Regions from separate parts of the Homo sapiens genome. Here all the other regions are linked to region 3. Evidence: fine-mapped expression QTL. A gene starts in region 3. Each other region holds a variant in brackets. All regions are shown on one strand. Distances are from middle to middle. Region 1 holds the start of SNORD149 (small nucleolar RNA, C/D box 149). Region 2 holds the start of LOC124902050. Region 3 holds the start of GSDMD (gasdermin D).

Region 1 (5,214 bases), 53 kb after region 3:
CGGGGCGATGGAGGGTCTTCAAGCTCCGGCGGAGGCGGTGGGCAGAGCTGGCACTGTGGGTGGCCTCTCTGACCCTACCCTTGCCGGCCTTCCCTGACCCATGTCTGTGCCCTGGGTTTTCTCTACAGCGTCCAGCCTGCATGCCGTGCGGACTGCACCCACCAGCAAGGTGATCAAGACCCGCTACCGCATTGTCAAGAAGACGCCGGCCTCGCCTCTCAGCGCCCCGCCCTTCCCCCTGTCTCTGCCCTCCTGGCGGGCCCGGCGGCTCTCACTATCCAGGTAGGAAGGCTTCCTGCAGGCTCCTGCAGGCCTGGGAACTGGGCTGTCTGGCCCTGCCCTGAGGGCTGCAGGGTAGAATCCAAGGGCCAGGGGGAGCTGAGCACATCCCAGAACTGCTTGGTGTTGGGCTCGTTGGCTGGGGACCAGCCTGATTTTTCTGTGTCTTTAGCAATTTCTGCACCAAATAGGAGGCCAGCTTGTGTTTACCACATACACGTGAAGACGGACGGACACACATGCACACACATGCTCTGCTGTTCTCAGCAAGCCTATTAGCTGGTGAGGGCTCTGTGCCATGAAAGCTTCTGCTGCCCAGACGGTCAGGGCCCACGCCATGTGCTGTCTGAGCATCTCTCGGGGAGAAGCTTCTGGTGGGAGAGGCTGGGCCTTCAGTGGTCTGTCTGGAAGCTGTCAATGTATGATTGTCAAGGCGGTGATGTGAGCTACTCCTTGCCCTGCTGCTGGCTGCCTGTCCGTGTTCTGGCCCCCACTCGCACTCTGACCTCGATGCAGGCTGGGAGGGCGGCTCTGTCGGCAGGGAACAGCTTTTGCCCTCCTGGGGCCGCTATCCCGGGAGGCTTTGCCACCTGCTCAGTCAAGGTTGCTCAGCCTCTGGGCCTCAGGAGGCCTGGCTCTAGGAGGTTGGCCCCTTCCTTTGCTGTGGTGGTGGTGCCCCATCTCCAGGTTGGGAGAGGGTAATAGCTCTGGCAGGCAGATGGGAAGCAGGCAGTGGCAGACCCCTCCCTCTGTCTTCTGACCCTCCCCGCGGGAATCTGCTCCTGGGGGAGTGGCGTGGGCCAGAGATGGTGGGCAGGGCCTCAGGGCGAGCAGCCACGGCCCAGGGCACGGCCACCCACCGGACCGTAGCTGCCTGGTGGTTCCCTGCTGCTAGCCAGAGGTTTCCAGGCCTGAGGCTAACCCCAGGGGATCCACCCACCAGTATGGACAGCCCTACCCAGCTCTGGAGCCTCGTGGCAGGTCAGCCAGCTGGCGAGCCCACCAGGTGGTGTCCTGCTGCCTCCCGTATCACCAGGCCACACTCAGCTTGGCCCTGCTGCTGAGTTTTCTGGAGGCAATAGCTGGAGTATATTTTAAATTAATTTTACTGCACTTTTTGTAATATTTTTGTTTTAAATAGATTTATAAGCATCTCGGGGGCTATTTCTGCAAATTTATGAAGATAATTTTTATTCTCTCGATAAGGTTAAATTTACACCTGCTATTTCCATATTAATTCACATTGCTAAGTGGATCTAATTTTCTTCCGTTCTTCTATCTGGTGAGCATGGCCTTTCCTAATGCAATTTCCCCCACACTAAATCACTGTGATCGGGAGTCATGATCGAGCTAAATTAACTTAAATTAATTTACTTAATAAGAGCCCCGGATCATCGGGAATGAGGTTCAGATTTATGGATTCTCCGCTCCTGCTTCCCGTCCTGTGGTCGTCGTCAGCCCGACGTCGAGGGTCCACCTCTCCCAGGGGTGCGGCTCGGGGCCAAGTGATGATTTTCCTCAGGGCGGACCCAGCAGGGCCTCTCCTTCTGGATTCTGAAGGCCAAGAAGGCGTCTGGTTTGGGTCCGGCTGGTCTGGTTCCTGTAGCTGGGCCTGCCCAGGAGGGCCCTGATGGTGTTGTTGCACAGAAACAAGTGCCCATGCCCTGGGGCTGAGGAGGCCGGGAGGAGGAGGAGGTGGCAGCCGGCCCAGCGCCCAGGGCCTCCTGTCGGCGCCATGTGGCTGAGAGCAGCGGGTCAGCTGATAGGCTCCCTCCAAGTTCCCTGTCCTTCCAAAGTGAAGCCTGGCCAGCTGCCCTGCAGGGAGCGGCCGTGACTCTCTGAGTGCCCTGGTGTAGGGGCTGCACCACAGGCATGGGTGGGCAGGAGGTGGAGCAGGCATCGCCTTTGATGGATCAAGGGCCCCAGCACCAGAAGCCTGAATTCAGCCCACCCCTGGAGGCCCTGGCTGTGGTTGGTGGCCATGGGCTCCAGGCCTCAGTGTCTTCTCCGTGTGTGAAGGCCAGGCTGAGTCCGCCCCAGGATGCACATGTGGCTGAGGGGGTGTGTGAGGGGCCCTCCTTGCTTTCCTGACCGCCTCACCCCAGTCCTGTTCCACTCCTTGCCAGGC[G/A]TCTGGGACCCTTCGGGACACGAACCCTGGGCTTGTGGATAGGGTGTGGGAGTGGAGTGGGGAGGGTGCTGAGCTGAGGGGCACGACTCTTAGGAAGTCCTGGGAAGAATGGCCACCAGTGGGCTGGGCCTGCCTCGCCCAGGGTCACCTGCCACCTGCGTCCCAGCATGGCTGCCTGGCCTGCTGTTGCCTGTTTGCGTGCCTGGGCTCGGGGTTGTTTAGGCAGAAAGGGCGTCTGGGCCAGCGGCTGGTCTAGCCTGGCCCATGCGCCATCTCCGGTGCTGCATCAGAGCCAGGGCTGCCTGCATGTGGCTGGACCCTCAGCCCTCCCTCGGCAGGCCCAGGCCACCATGGACTAAGGGCTGCCATGGAGAGGAAGAAGGCAGGCTGTCCTGCCAGTTGGCTGGCTGGAGCCTGAGACCAGAGCTCTCCTTGGGCCCCAGCTCCCTCTCCCATCCCTGGAGGGGCTGGCGGGCAAGCCCCAGCAGTCCTGGAAGCCACGGTGGTCAGAGTTGGCAGGGGCTGGTGGACACGCGGGAGGGGAGGGAGGCAGGGTGACTAGTGGCTGAGGGACAGCGCCGGTGTGGGATGCCCCAGCCGACCCCTCACTGTGATTGGAGATCTGGTCACCCTGAGAGGAAGTCATCTAGGCCTCTTGCCCTCAGAGCCTTAGCATCTTGCTCTGTTGCTGAAGCAAACCCGCGAGTTCCGAGCATGGAGCCGGGCCTGCTCTCTGTGAAGCTGCCAGCTCCTGGGAGATGGACGAGGCCAACAGCACTGCTCTGGGAGGAGAGGGAGCCGCTGGCAGAGGCTCTGCGAAGGGACGGCAGTGGGGAGTACAGTGAGGCCCAGGGGGCTCTGAGTGTTGAGGGAAGGCCCTGGGGGTCTGTGTGTGAAGGCCAGGCTGACCCTGCCCCAGGATGCACATGAAGGTCCCAGGTGCTGGGAGTGGCTGAGCATCTTGGGTAGGGTGTAGTTGGGGGCAGCGCAGTGCAGCGTGAACCTGACAGCCCGTCCCTGCCTGCTTGTACCATGCGAAATGGGTAGGGTCTCTAGGCTTGATTGTGGTGGGGTGTTCAGGACAGGGCCTGAGCTGGAACCCCAAAGACGGAGGAGGGGGCAGGACCTCTACCACCCGTCCTGAGAGGAATGGGACTGGGCCCTGCCCAAGGTGGGGACAAGAAACAGTAACACAGGCTGCCGCAGTGAAGCTTGCACAGCTCTGCTGCTGACAACAGCCCTCACCTTGTCCTCTCTCTGACCCTGTCCCTGGGACCTCCCCTGCCCTCTTTTCCCGTCCCCTCCCCTTGGCTGTGATGCTCATGGCGGGGACTGCACCGCCCTGAGGAGGCACGAGAAGGGGCCCCTCTCCTGGCCATGAGCCCCCAGGACCCCTCTGCAGTTCCTCTCAGCTTTCGGTTGGAGAGCCCCAGGCCCTGAGCTATTGGCCCTAGCTCTGCCCTGGGCACTGGGGAGGGCTCAGGGTGATTAGGCCTGTTCCCTCCTCTGGGAAGCTCTAGAAACTCCCCTTCCCTGCAGCCCGAGGGAAGGAGGGTAGGCAAGTGAGTGCCCGGCCTGAGTCTAGGCCTCTGCCCTGTCCCAGGGGGTGATTTGGCACACGCGCCCTCTCTCTCCCCCTCCTAATTTAAGTAGAAACTTACTGTCGGCCTGGTGGTCATGTTGGGCCCATGTGGAAGGCTGGAGGACAGCGTCAGGGCCCGTTGATGGCTGGGTTTGTAATAGGGGCTGGGGCCTCTCCTCCCTGTCAGCGGCTTTCTCTGGACCTGAACATGGAGGAGGCGGTGGGGAGCCAGCTGGGTGCTGGAGGAGGTAGGTGGTCGGGAGATGGCTGGGTGCTGGAGGAGGTGGTCGGGGGATGGCTGGGTGCTGGAGGGGATGGTGGTGGAGCCGGCTGGGTGCTGGGGGAGGTGGTGGTGGAGACAGTTGGGTGCTGGAGGAGGTGGTGGTGGAGACAGTTGGGTGCTGGAGGAGGTGGTGGTGGAGCCGGCTGGGTGCTGGGGGAGGTGGTGGTGGAGCCGGCTGGGTGCTGGGGGAGGTGTTGGGGAGATGGCTGGGTGCTGGAGGAGGTGGTCGGGGGATGGCTGGGTGCTGGGGGAGGTGGTCGGGAGATGGCTGGGTGCTGACCAGTGGCCTCAGGTTTGTGGCCGGCCAGTGCTCGTCGTTGTCAGATGGAAGGCAGAGGCTGCTGGGCAGTAGCTTCTGGGGCTTCTGTGTGCTGCCAGCCAGGGTCTCTGAGGATGGGCACACCATTGAGGCACACGCCAGACATCATGTGTGGAGACTGGGGTGGGGCAGAGGGTGGGAGGAGAAAAGGAGCAGTGCCTGTATGCCAAGGGCAGAACGGGACTCCTGCCTCAACGGGTGGCATCCACGGTGCCACCTGTGCTCCCATCAGAGGCCGCGTTGCCCTGGCCTGCAGATGCCCGGCCATGTGGCTGCTTGGGGCGGGGCAACAGCTGACGGGGGCATGCTGGCGGTGTGCTGGCCATGTGCCACCTCTCCCCAGAAGCTGAGGCATGGGACTGGGTTGTTCTGCTGAGCGTGGTGCCCGTCGCATCTGCCAAATACACAGGACGGGGCTGTTGCTCTGGCTCGGGGACCCTGGGAGCTTACTGTACTGCTGCCTTACGCATACCTCGGCCATGCCACAGTGGTCCCTGAGAGCCGGCCTTGGCCAGCCCTCCCCCGGGCCCCAGGACTGCTGCCTTGAAGTGAAGCCTGTCCCAGAGGGCCTGGAATGCAGGGGTGCGAGGCAGAAGGTCAGTGAAGGGTTTTGGAGGAGTCAC
Region 2 (5,203 bases), 760 kb before region 3:
TGGAACCTGGGCAGCCAGGTGGGCTGGTGGCTCTCAGCTGCCCTCCACGAGGTTGGGGCACCCCTGATCCCCAGGCCTGCCTTGCCCTCTGCTCTTCTGGCACCAGGCTGGGCAGTGCAGACAGCGCAGCCCTGCAGCCTTCAGGACACCTTGTTCCCAGGCCCTGCAATCCACCAAGCTGGATAGATGGGGCCCCCCTTGATGGTAGCGGGAGGTCAGGGGTAACCCCAGGGCCCTGCTGCTGCCTTACCTTGCTGGGGTGACTGCTTGATTAAAGACCCCAAGACTGGACCAGGCCCTGGTGTCCCCAGACCTGCAGCTATGGCCCAACAAGGCAGGTGTTTGAGGAGGCCCTGCACAGGGTCCCAGGACTGCACCAGGGGCCTCATCAGCAACCTGCTGAACTGGTGGTGTGAGGGGAGGGTGGGCTCCCTTGGTGGTATCCTCCCTCTACCCCAGTGGGGGCTGGTGGGCCCTGAGATGGAGGCATCTCCTTGGGCCCTGCTGAGGATGGCAGTAGTGGGTGAGCTCCTGGTGGGGGGATGGGTGTGGGGCCGACTCCTCCATCCCACATGGGCTCCTGTGCCTCTCCCTATCAGTTGGCCAGTGGAGCTCGAGAACAAACTGTTGCTGCCAGATAAAGCAGCAAAGCCTGCTCCACTGCCCAGCGCAGGCCCCCTTCCCTTCCTCCACCAGGCTGAGTGGAGAACCCTAAAGCTACGGGACAGGCTCCCGTTCCCCGTGCCTACACAGGGTGCTGGCTCTGGCAGAAAGACAGTGTGCCCGCCCCGCATCACCTGTCCGAGTGCGAACACCTTGGGAAGGGGGTTCCTGGTGGTCCTGTGACAACCAGAGACCCCCAGGGCCAAGGTGAGGCGCCCACCCCTGGTCCCTCAATAAAGAACTGCAAGCACATGCTGGTCCTGGGGAGTCGGGCAGGCACGGAGCTAGCTGCAAGCATCCGTCTTCCCCCAGGAGGCCACTGCAGCCCGGCCCTTCTGTGCCCTGGGCCCCTCCTCATTGCAGCACCACCCACCGCACCACCCTGGGACAGAGGAAACACATGGAGGCCATAGCATAGAGCCTGTCTGTTTATAGATCTCTGCCTGTCTTGTCCGTCCATCCACTGTGTGTATATATCTGTGTATCTCTGTGGAGCGGGGAACGGGACAGTTGTGTAAAAATCCAAAATACAATTCTGACTATGAACAACCTGCAGGGTCAGTCCAGGTGTGGCTGTGAAGCCCCAACCAAACCACAGGACACGGGGTTGGGGGAAGGCAGACTGGCAGGCCAGGGTGACCCTCCTGACCAGAGGTGCTGCCCAGACCCGAGCCCGTTTGTCCTACTGGGGCTATGGCGGCCGACCCACCAGTGCCCAAGACCGCGAGGCTGCCCTGCCTCCCCAAGACCAGCCCTGCACTGGGGGTGGGGGTGGGCGGCTGGCCCAGCTCCTCCGGGGCCTCTAGGAGACAGTGGGGTCCTTGGCTTTGGGAGGCTCCGAGCCTGTCAGCAGGGAGATGGTGGGGTCCTCGGCGAAGCCGTCCCCTTCGGAGAAGTAGGAGCCCTCTCCCAGCTCAAACAGCACCGGCAGGTCGTTGCTCCCGGTGTCCACGGAGCCGGGGTCCAGCAGGAACAGCGGCTGCGCTGTGTAGTGCACCAGCTGCTTCCCTGCGGGGGTGGGGGTGTCAAGGCGGTGGGGGGTTGGGGGCAGAGGTGGGGCCGGTGGGACTTGGCTCACCTGAATCCGGGCTGCTGTTCTCTGCCTCGGGAGGCCTGGGGGGCTCCTGGGGAGACAGGAGCTCTTGGATCTGTGGGGTGGAGACGGTATTGTGAGCACTCCCGCTGGTCTCGTTCCCCCTCACCCCCCGCCCGCCTACGCACACTGGCCAGGCTGCTGTCAAGGTCAGGCAGGCTCATGTCGGGCACGGTCACCGAGGGGCTGAACAGCTGCGGAGGAGGGAGGGAAGTCAGAACAGCACCCGGGGGCGGGGCGGGGAGGCGGGGCGGGGAGGCGGGGCGGGGAGGCGGGGAGGCGGGGCGGGGAGGCGGGGAGGCGCGGGGAGGCGGGGCGGGGAGGCGGGGCGGCGGCGCGGGGAGGCGGGGAGGCGGGGCGGGGAGGCGGGGCGGCGCGGCGGGGAGGCGGGGCGGGGAGGCGGGGCGGCGGGGCTCCACTCACGTCCAGCAGGGCACTGGTGTCCACGCTGAAGCCGTGGCTGCTCAGCATGGTCTGCAGGTTATCCAGGTTGGAGTCCATAGCATCCAAGTGGTCACTGAGCTCATTCCTGGCCCGGGATAAGGCGGTACCTGAACCAGTGCCCCAGGCCCCACACCCCAATGCCCTCCTGTGGGAGAAGGGCTCCCCTTGACTGTACCCCCCAGGCTGCACCCCCGTGTACGCCTGCACAGGCTGGAGGGGGCAGCGCATTCGAGGACGGCCTGGAAGGCAGTGGAGGCTCTGTGCCCTGCAGGGGTGCGGCTGGGCCTATGCTGGGCATCCCTTTGCCATGAGGGCCTGGGGGCCTTGGTGGCAGTGGACCCAGGAGACAAGGGGCGTATTCAGCTCCAGCACAAGGATCAGGGATTTCAGTGTTCAGGGTTGGTGAGGTTTCCCGTTGCACTGGGAAAACAGGTGGGGCTCTGCTCAGTGTGTGGGTGGCTCAGTCCCTGCCCTGGTGCTGCTGTGGGGATGAGACCCACGGTCTGGTGGCTGTGACCAAGAAAGCCCTAGGCCACAGGGCACACCTGGGCTATGGGACGGACAGCCAGGCTGGGTCCCAGAGGTGCCCTGGAGACCCTGCCTGACAGGAAGTGCAGTCAGCACCGCAGTCTGGATCCTGCCAACACCAGAGGCCGTGCCAGAGCAGGGAGGCCTGTCCCTGTCATCCCTGTCACAGGCAATGACCACAGGCCCGTGGCCAGGGGAGCCATGACGACACTGAGCCCCCGCCACAGAGGGGTCTCGGCTGCTGCCGCCCAGGCCC[G/A]ACGCTCATGCCCGGCCAGGCTGGGTCTGGTCCACGGCTGTGTGGGAGGGCCCGAGCGCTGGCAGAGCCCTCCTCCCTCCCCAGTGGGGTCAGCGCTAACCCTGGCTGGACTTGGCCATGCGGAGAGGAAGAGGGGCAGGGGAAGAGGCGGGCGACCCTAGACATCTGTGGAGTGCGAGCCAAACTGCAAGATACAAAAACAAGAGCCCCCATTGCAGGCAGGGGCTGGGGGTGTGGAGGCCGGCCCTGCTCACCATCTCCTGCCATGTGTCTGGGCAGCACGACCTGCCAGGGCCCGTGGCCTGTGGCGAGGGTGGCGGCAGCAGGACGGGTGGCTGAGAGCAGGGCCCGGCAGCCTGTCCGGACATGCCCGTGGCTTCTGTGGCGTTTGGGACTGTGGGGTGATCTGGCTGGCACCTGTCTCCCTCCCCAGCCCCGAGCTCCGAGGTTGGGGGTAGGGTCCTGCCTCGCCAGCTGCCCTGCTCAGTCCACTGGGACAGTCGGGGCTGAAGCCCAGGGCTGTGCGTCCAGGCGCTGTGGGTGGGGCCAGGGGTGGGCGGCACTCACTTGTCCAGGCAGGCTACGCTGAGGCACTTTTCAGGGGTGGAGGTGGGCGGGGGGGAGGGAGGCCGGCCCTCGGTGTCCGTGTGGCCCCTGGCGTCCGTGAGGGCTGTGACGGAGGCGGGGGCAGGTTCACTCTCCCGCAGGATGGAGTCAATGAGGGCGGTCGGGGACAAGAGGGTGTCCACGGAAGATGGGCGCCCGGGACTCGCCTCCTCTACCCGGGGGCTCTGAGGCGGGCTGGGGGGCTCCTCCTTGACACGCACCAGGGGGCTGCTGGATAGGGGCCTGCACACGAGGGGGGCCAGGTGAGCTGGCGTCTCGGCCAGCCCCACCTCATCCCCAACTCTGCCCTGGGCCCACAGGGGCTCGCCTCATTGGGGGACAGGATGGCTGGGGTGATGCGGCCCCCACCTCTCGTCTATGCTCCCGCCGGGGGAGGCCATGGGGCTGGCAGGAGCCAGCTCGGTGATGTCGGAGATGATGGGTCCAGAGCTGGCCACAGCATCAGGGGCGTAGAGGCTGGAGCTGCTGTAGGCTGGGGAGGGGGCCTGCAATCAAAGGCAGGAGGTCCATGCAGTGCCGGCAGGGGCAACCCACCCCACTGCCGCCTGCATGCCTGGGCGGGTGCCCTGTCTCCGGCACTCACCGAGTAGGGGCCCGAGCCGTGGACGTGCTCCAGGGAGAACTGCCGGCTATACTTGGGCATGGAATGTGCTGAGCCACTGTCGTTCAGCATCAGGGGGCTGTGGGGAAGGGTGCAGGTCAGCCACCACCCCCCACCTCGGGGTACCCGGGGCACAGCTGACAGAGAAGGGGGACAGCCCTGGGCCCCGGGTGGTGGATGCAGGCATCCCCAAAACCTCACATCTTTCTCTTCACCCCCAGGATCCGGTTTGACTGCACCAGTGAGATCAGGAACTGAATGAGCTGTGGAGAGAGAGGACACAGTTACCCCGGCCCTTGTGGGGCCCCCGCCGGCCCTCTGGCCCTGCCCCCACCTTGTTGACGACTTTCTGTTGCTGGGCATGCTTCTGCCGAAGGCTGGCCACCTCCCGCCACAGAGCCTCATTCTCACTGCAACAGACCAGGCTGGGTCAGTGGGGCCCAATCCCATGAGCCCCAGGGCTGAGGGAGCCCCACAGACCCTCCCTGTCCCCCATGCAGGAGCAGGGGTAAGTGTGACCATGTCTGGCCTGGCCCACCCCAGGATGAGAACTTGTGTGTGGAGGGACTGGGGGCCAGGGCCAGGGCTTGCTGGTCCCACTGCCCCTCCCTGCCGGGGACACCTGGTGTCACGTAGGGTGTTGGGGATGGATCCATGCGAGCCAGGTGCACCCGGATCCTGGCATCCATCCTGGCAAACACCTGGAGGGCTGCCTTGGACACAGGCCAGGAGCAGACCCTTGGGCCGCCCTTCCAAGGCCTGAGCAGCCAGGTTAAGGGAGGACGGTTCTTCAGGCTGCGACACTGGCTGTCCCATGTCCTGTAGGTGCTCAGGGCCCTCGCCAGGCCTGGAGGTGGCTCAGGGGTGGGGAAGAGCTGTCCCCAGCCAGGTGAGCAGGGCCATGACCGCGCTCCTGCTGCTCTGGGAGGCTGGGCCCTGTCAAGCCTGTGAGTCTTCTTGGTAGGCCAGGTCCACGTGGCCGGACTCCAGG
Region 3 (5,180 bases):
CCGGGCAGGGAAAACCGGCCCGAGCCCTCCCGCTTGTGGGTGCGCGTGACTTCCACCTCCTTCTGTGTCTGCAGCACCTCAGTCACCACGTACACGTTGTCCCCGCGGCTGCGCAGCTGCTGCAGGACTTTGTGTTCTGGCTGCCGCAGGTGCCTGTGTCCGAGGAGCAGCAAAGCTCGCTGGGCCGCAGCCCCTGAAGGCGTCTTCCCTCCCCTGACAGCCCCACGCCACCGGGGGAGGTGGTGCAGAGGGGCCCTCCAGAGGTCTGTGGGTGCCGGGGCACCGGCAGCCTCTCCGTGTGCTCCCCACGGGGACGGGACCCCATGAGGAAAGGTGGACTCGGGGACTCCAAGTCCAGACTCGAGGTGCGGCCCCCTCACCTGGGCCCCCGTGTTCACACCACCCCTTGTCCTCACAGCAGCCTGGGGCTCAGTCCGGTCCTTAGGATCCAGTCCTGGCAGCGGAGGCCCCAGATGACCCCTGCAGCTTCCTTCCTGCAAGCTGGTTCCGGCCACAGCGCTCTTTTGCCTCTGGGACTTTCCTGATGCCCCAAGGTTGTGACCTTCCCAAGAGCAAGGCTGGGACCTGGCACAGTGGCTCACCCCTGTAATCCCAGCACTTTGGGAGGCCGAGGCAGGAGGACTGCTTGAGGCCAGGAGTTCAAGACCACCCTGGCCGAGATAGCAAAACCTCACCTCAAAAAATAATTTAAATAAATAAATAAATAAAAGCAGGGTTGCTTGGGGTAGGTGGGGCCCTGCCCTGCCCTGCCCTCTTCGGGCCCACCTCTCATGGAGCAGAGTCTGCCAGGTGTTAGGGTCCACACTCAGCGAGTACACATTCATTGAGGTGCTGGAGCTGTCAGACACCGCGGCCCCGCCTGCGATCTTTGCCTGTCCTGGGGCTGCCAGCTCCACGCTGCCCTGTATCTGCCCATCCATGGCATCGTAGAAGTGGAAGCTCCTGCCACGCTGCACGTCTAAAGCAAGGCCAGACCTGAGGCTGTGCCCAGCGCCCCGCCTCTCCCCCGCCCCCACCAGCCCTGTCCCAGCCCCAGGGCAGAGGGACCTTTGGAAAGGCCCCGGCCTCTGGAAGAGAGGCCCAGAGCTAGAGGCTGCAGAGCCCAGTGGATGGTTGGCCCCAGCCCGCTCCCCTCTCCCATCCAGCCTCCCTGGGGCTCTGCCTCAGCACCACATCAGGCACCTGGTTCCGCGGCATCCGGCTCCAGGATGTCCTTGATAGACAGGTTGACACACTTATAACGGGGTTTCCAGAACCATGAGCTTGAGGGCTTCCTAACCACCAGGCAGTAGGGCTGGAAGCCAGTGGAGCTCTGCAGGCTGGTCACAGGGATGAACTCCCCACCATGGTCCAGCTCCTGGACCACTCTCCGGACTACCCGCTCAAAGGCCGACCCCATGCTCCTGAGGAGGGGAAATGGGTCAGGCATTGTGCTCTCGGGGCGGGCGGGAGGGAGTGGGAGAAGGGTCAGTACTTGGATGTCTCCCATGATGGGGGACTCCTTCCCTCCAGAACAGCCCTGCCCAGCTCATCCTGGGATGCTCCCACTAGCAGAAAGCTTCTGTCCCCGGCCCTCCCCAACACAGAATTACAGTGTTCTCCCTGTTGTCTACGGTACCATGAGCACCTCCAGCCAGGGACAGTGAGGCCTGACGCCCAGACCTGCTCTAACACAGAGGGCTCTGTCCACTAGAATGGCTGCCTCTGGCTGGGAGGAAACAAGCTGTCACCTCCTGAGCGTGGTGCAGGGACCCACTGCAAAACCCAGCCAGAGTGTCACCAGGGACCCACTGCAAAACCCAGCCAGAGTGTCGCCCCACCCCAGCTGCGTCCTCCAGGGCCTTCTCTGTGCCTGGAGCTCCATGAGCCACCTGTCCAAGGCTGAGGCTTTGGGGGTCAGAGGCCATAGCGGGCCTCCGCTGGGATAGGGGGCACCTGGGCCACTGTGGAGGGGCTGCAGCTGCCCCAGGAAGCCTCTGAGTGCTGGGTCTGCTGAAAGTGGAGGCTGGGCCCAGAAGGCAGCTGGGGGCGGGAACAGCACCGGCCCGGGAACCTGGATGGCGGACCTGGGAGTCAAGCCCAAGCCCAGGTCCAAAGGCCGGGCCCCTGGGCTGGCCAGGGGCAGCCTTTCCCGAAGCCTGGAGCTTCCGCCCCCGTGTGCGGCGCGGGGCCTTCTGGGCGAACGCTGGGGCAGCAGGGCCAGCATCCCCCACCCGGGAGCCAGCGGCCGGCCCCACTCGGGAGCTCCAGCCAGGCCGGGGGAGGGGGCGGGGCGCAGCTCACCGTGACCGTCGGCGCCCCGAGGGTGGCGCGTCTGGCGCGTCTGCTCTCCCTGGGAGCCGTCCGGCGAGCAGGAGCTGGAGGTGCCCAGAGCTAAAAGTGAAACTGCAACCTGACGCAGGGCCCGCCCAGGACGCCCTCCCGGAACCGTCCCGGAGAGCCCGCCCCGGCCCCCTTCCTGCCCCCTCTTCCCGCCAGCCCGCCTGGAGCACCAGCCTCGCGCGTCCGGAGGAACCTTGGCTTGGCGCCCCATCCTGGTAGCCTCAAACTTCATAGCACTTTGTGGTTTTTCTTAAAACTCTGAGCCTGTGCCCGGGCGGATCACCTGAGGTCGGGAGTTCAAGACCAGACTGACCAACATGGTGAAACCCCGTCTCTACTAAAAATACAAAATTAGCCCGGCGTGGTGGCGCATGCCTGTGATCCCAGCTACCTGGGAGGCTGAGGCAAGAGAATCGCTTGAACCTGGGAGGTGTAGGTTGCAGTGAGCCGAGATCATGCCATTGTACTCCAGCCTGGGCGACAGAGTGAGACTCCGTCTCAAAAACAAACAAGCAAACAAACAACTTTGGGCCTGTGCCGAAGGGTCTGGGCAGATCTTCCAAAGATGTACAAAATGTAGAAATTGCCCTCAAGCAAATGCAAAGATGCTCAACACCCTTAGTCATCAAGGAAATGCAAATGGAATCCACAGAGAGATACTGCACACTGACAAAGATGGTCGTATTACTAAAGGTGAATAACCAGCGCGGGGGGCACGTGGAGTCACTGGAACATTTGTGCAATGCTGGTGGGAATGTCAACCCGTGCGGCCCTCTGGAATAAGCCTGGCAGCTCCTCCAAGAGTTACCGTGTGACCCAGCAATTCCACTCCTAGCTCCACCCACAGGAATTGAAAGCAAAGACGCAAACAGATGCCTGTGCACCAAAGTTCACGGCAGCATCCTTCGCCATAGTGGCAGCATCCGTCGTCACAGCGGCATCATCCTTCATCATAGCGGCAGCATCCGTCGTCACAGCGGCAGCATCCTTCGCCACAGCGGCAGCAGCTGTCGTCACAGCGGCATCATCCTTCGCCATAGCGGCAGCATCCTTCGCCAAAGCGGCAGCATCCTTCACCATAGCGGCAGCATCCTTCGCCATAGCGGCAGCATCCTTCGCCATAGCGGCAAGGTGGAAACCCTGTCCATCCACTGAGGCGTGCATAGACTAAACATGGCCAGTCCAGGCACTGGAATCCAGGCCGTAGAACGGCGCCCACGGTCAAAAGGAATGAGACCCTGATGCACTGGGCGACACAGACGGGCGACACAGACTTGGAGACATCATGCTAAGTGAAAAGCCAGGCACACGGAGCGGACGGCGTGATCCTGCTCACGTGATGTGTCCCGAATGGGCACGTCCAGAGGGAAGAAGGGAGATGGCGCTGCCGGTGCCCGGGACGGGGGTTGGGAGCGACGGTTGCTGGTTTGGGGTTTCTTTCTGGGGTGAGGAAGTGTTTTGATATTGGCCGTTGGTGATGTTTGCATACCTCTGAATATGCTAAGACCCACAGAATTGCACACTTTAAATGGATGAATTGTATGGTATGGGAATTACACAATTATGTCTCATTAAAGCAGTTATTTTAAAAATCTAGTGCCCAGTAGCAACACCTAGTCTCGGCACAGGCTCCCTCAGTGCCCTACTGACCTAAGTCATGGTGGGCCCAGGGCCATGGGCCCACCCCTGCACACGGTAGTCCTCCCACCCGGCCCTCCCAGCCGCTCCGCGGTTGTGGATGGGGCTACTTGGGCTTCGGCCCCACTCCTAGGCCTGACCACAGTGGGGACACAGTGGTGCCCTGCGGGTCCCTGCTGGTGCTGTCTCCTGGCTGTTTTGTGTATTTTTTGTTGTTTGTTTTGTTTTGTGTGAGGCAAGATCTCTCTGTCGCCCAGGCTGGAGTGCAGTGGCACAATCACCACTCACTGCAGCCTCGACCTCCTGGGCTCAAGTGATCCCCTCCTGTCAGTCTCCTGAGTAGCTGGGACTACAGGTGCTCAGCACCACACCTGGCAAAGTTTTCGTTTTTGTTTTGAGACTGAGTCTTGCTCTGTCACCAGGATGGAGTGCAGTGGCGTGATCTCAGCTCATTGCAACCTCTGCCTCCCAGGTTCAAGCGATTCTCCTGCCTCAGCCTCCCGAGTAGTTGGGACTACAGGCATGTACCACCACACCCGGCTAATTTTGTGTCTGTGTGTGAGAGACGGAGTGTTGCTCTTTTTTGCCCAGACTGGAGTGCAATGGCACAACCTCAGCTCATTGCAATCTCTGCCTCCCGGGCTCAAGCAATTCTCCTGTCTCACCCTCCCGAGTATCTTGGATTACAGGTGCCCGCCACCACGCCCAGCTAATTTTGTATTTTTAGTAGAGACAGGGTTTTACCATGTTGGCCAGGCTGGTCTCGATCTCTTGACCTTGCTATCCACCCGCCTTGGCCTTCCAAAGTGCTGGGATTACAGGCGTGAGTCACCGCACCTGGCTGTAAGTTTTTAAAATTATTTAATTTTCAGTAGAAAGGTCTCACTATGTTGCCCAGGCTGGTCTTGAACTTCTGAGCTCAAGTGATCCTCCCGCCTCAGCCTCCCAAAGTGCTGGGATTCCAGGGCTGAGCCACTACACTGGGCTTGGGTACTGTTTTGCAGACCAGGTGGGTCTAAGGTTTCATCTCAGGACACACTGCTGGGCAGAGCTGACCTTCCTCCGTGACCCCGGCAGGCAAGGAGCCCACACACTGCTGCCCCTGGAAGCCAGCGCCCTGGGGTGTGGCAGCCCGTCCCTGCTGGGTAACAGGGCCAGCACGTGCTGAGCTGTTGTGCTGCAGCCTCCATGGTGAAGAT

What was found. PIP is the estimated chance that this variant, and not a neighbour inherited with it, causes the effect. A credible set is the group of variants that fine-mapping cannot tell apart.
Region 1: its variant is the best candidate, but not a certain one, in a credible set for the expression of GSDMD in whole blood (TOPMed, PIP 0.56).
Region 2: its variant is the best candidate, but not a certain one, in a credible set for the expression of GSDMD in memory regulatory T cells (Schmiedel 2018, PIP 0.90).

What each region holds. Positions count from the first base shown.
Region 1 is chr8:143,502,814-143,508,027 of GRCh38, reverse strand. ZC3H3 (zinc finger CCCH-type containing 3) reads left to right here. Exons shown (of 12, transcript NM_015117.3): 4 at 129-282. SNORD149 (small nucleolar RNA, C/D box 149) reads left to right here and starts at 1,780; the gene lies at 1,780-1,843. The variant G/A (reference allele first, on the strand shown) is at 2,408.
Region 2 is chr8:144,310,593-144,315,795 of GRCh38, reverse strand. HSF1 (heat shock transcription factor 1) reads right to left here. Exons shown (of 13, transcript NM_005526.4): 5 at 4,547-4,622; 6 at 4,414-4,475; 7 at 4,195-4,291; 8 at 3,960-4,096; 9 at 3,552-3,833; 10 at 2,180-2,285; 11 at 1,885-1,950; 12 at 1,742-1,811; 13 at 1,076-1,671. The coding sequence ends at 1,466. DGAT1 (diacylglycerol O-acyltransferase 1) reads left to right here. Exons shown (of 17, transcript NM_012079.6): 17 at 1-1,212. It overlaps LOC124902050, which reads left to right and starts at 226. Exons shown (of 2, transcript XM_047422537.1): 1 at 226-870; 2 at 976-1,212. The coding sequence starts at 226. The coding sequence ends at 846. RefSeq lists an enhancer at 2,480-3,011. The variant G/A (reference allele first, on the strand shown) is at 2,985.
Region 3 is chr8:143,555,576-143,560,755 of GRCh38, reverse strand. It overlaps GSDMD (gasdermin D), which reads right to left and starts at 2,410. Exons shown (of 11, transcript NM_024736.7): 1 at 2,305-2,410; 2 at 1,204-1,424; 3 at 787-979; 4 at 1-153. The coding sequence starts at 1,420. LOC100310756 (a long non-coding RNA gene) reads left to right here and starts at 2,485. Exons shown (of 1, transcript NR_147504.1): 1 at 2,485-3,937. RefSeq lists an enhancer at 1,954-2,595.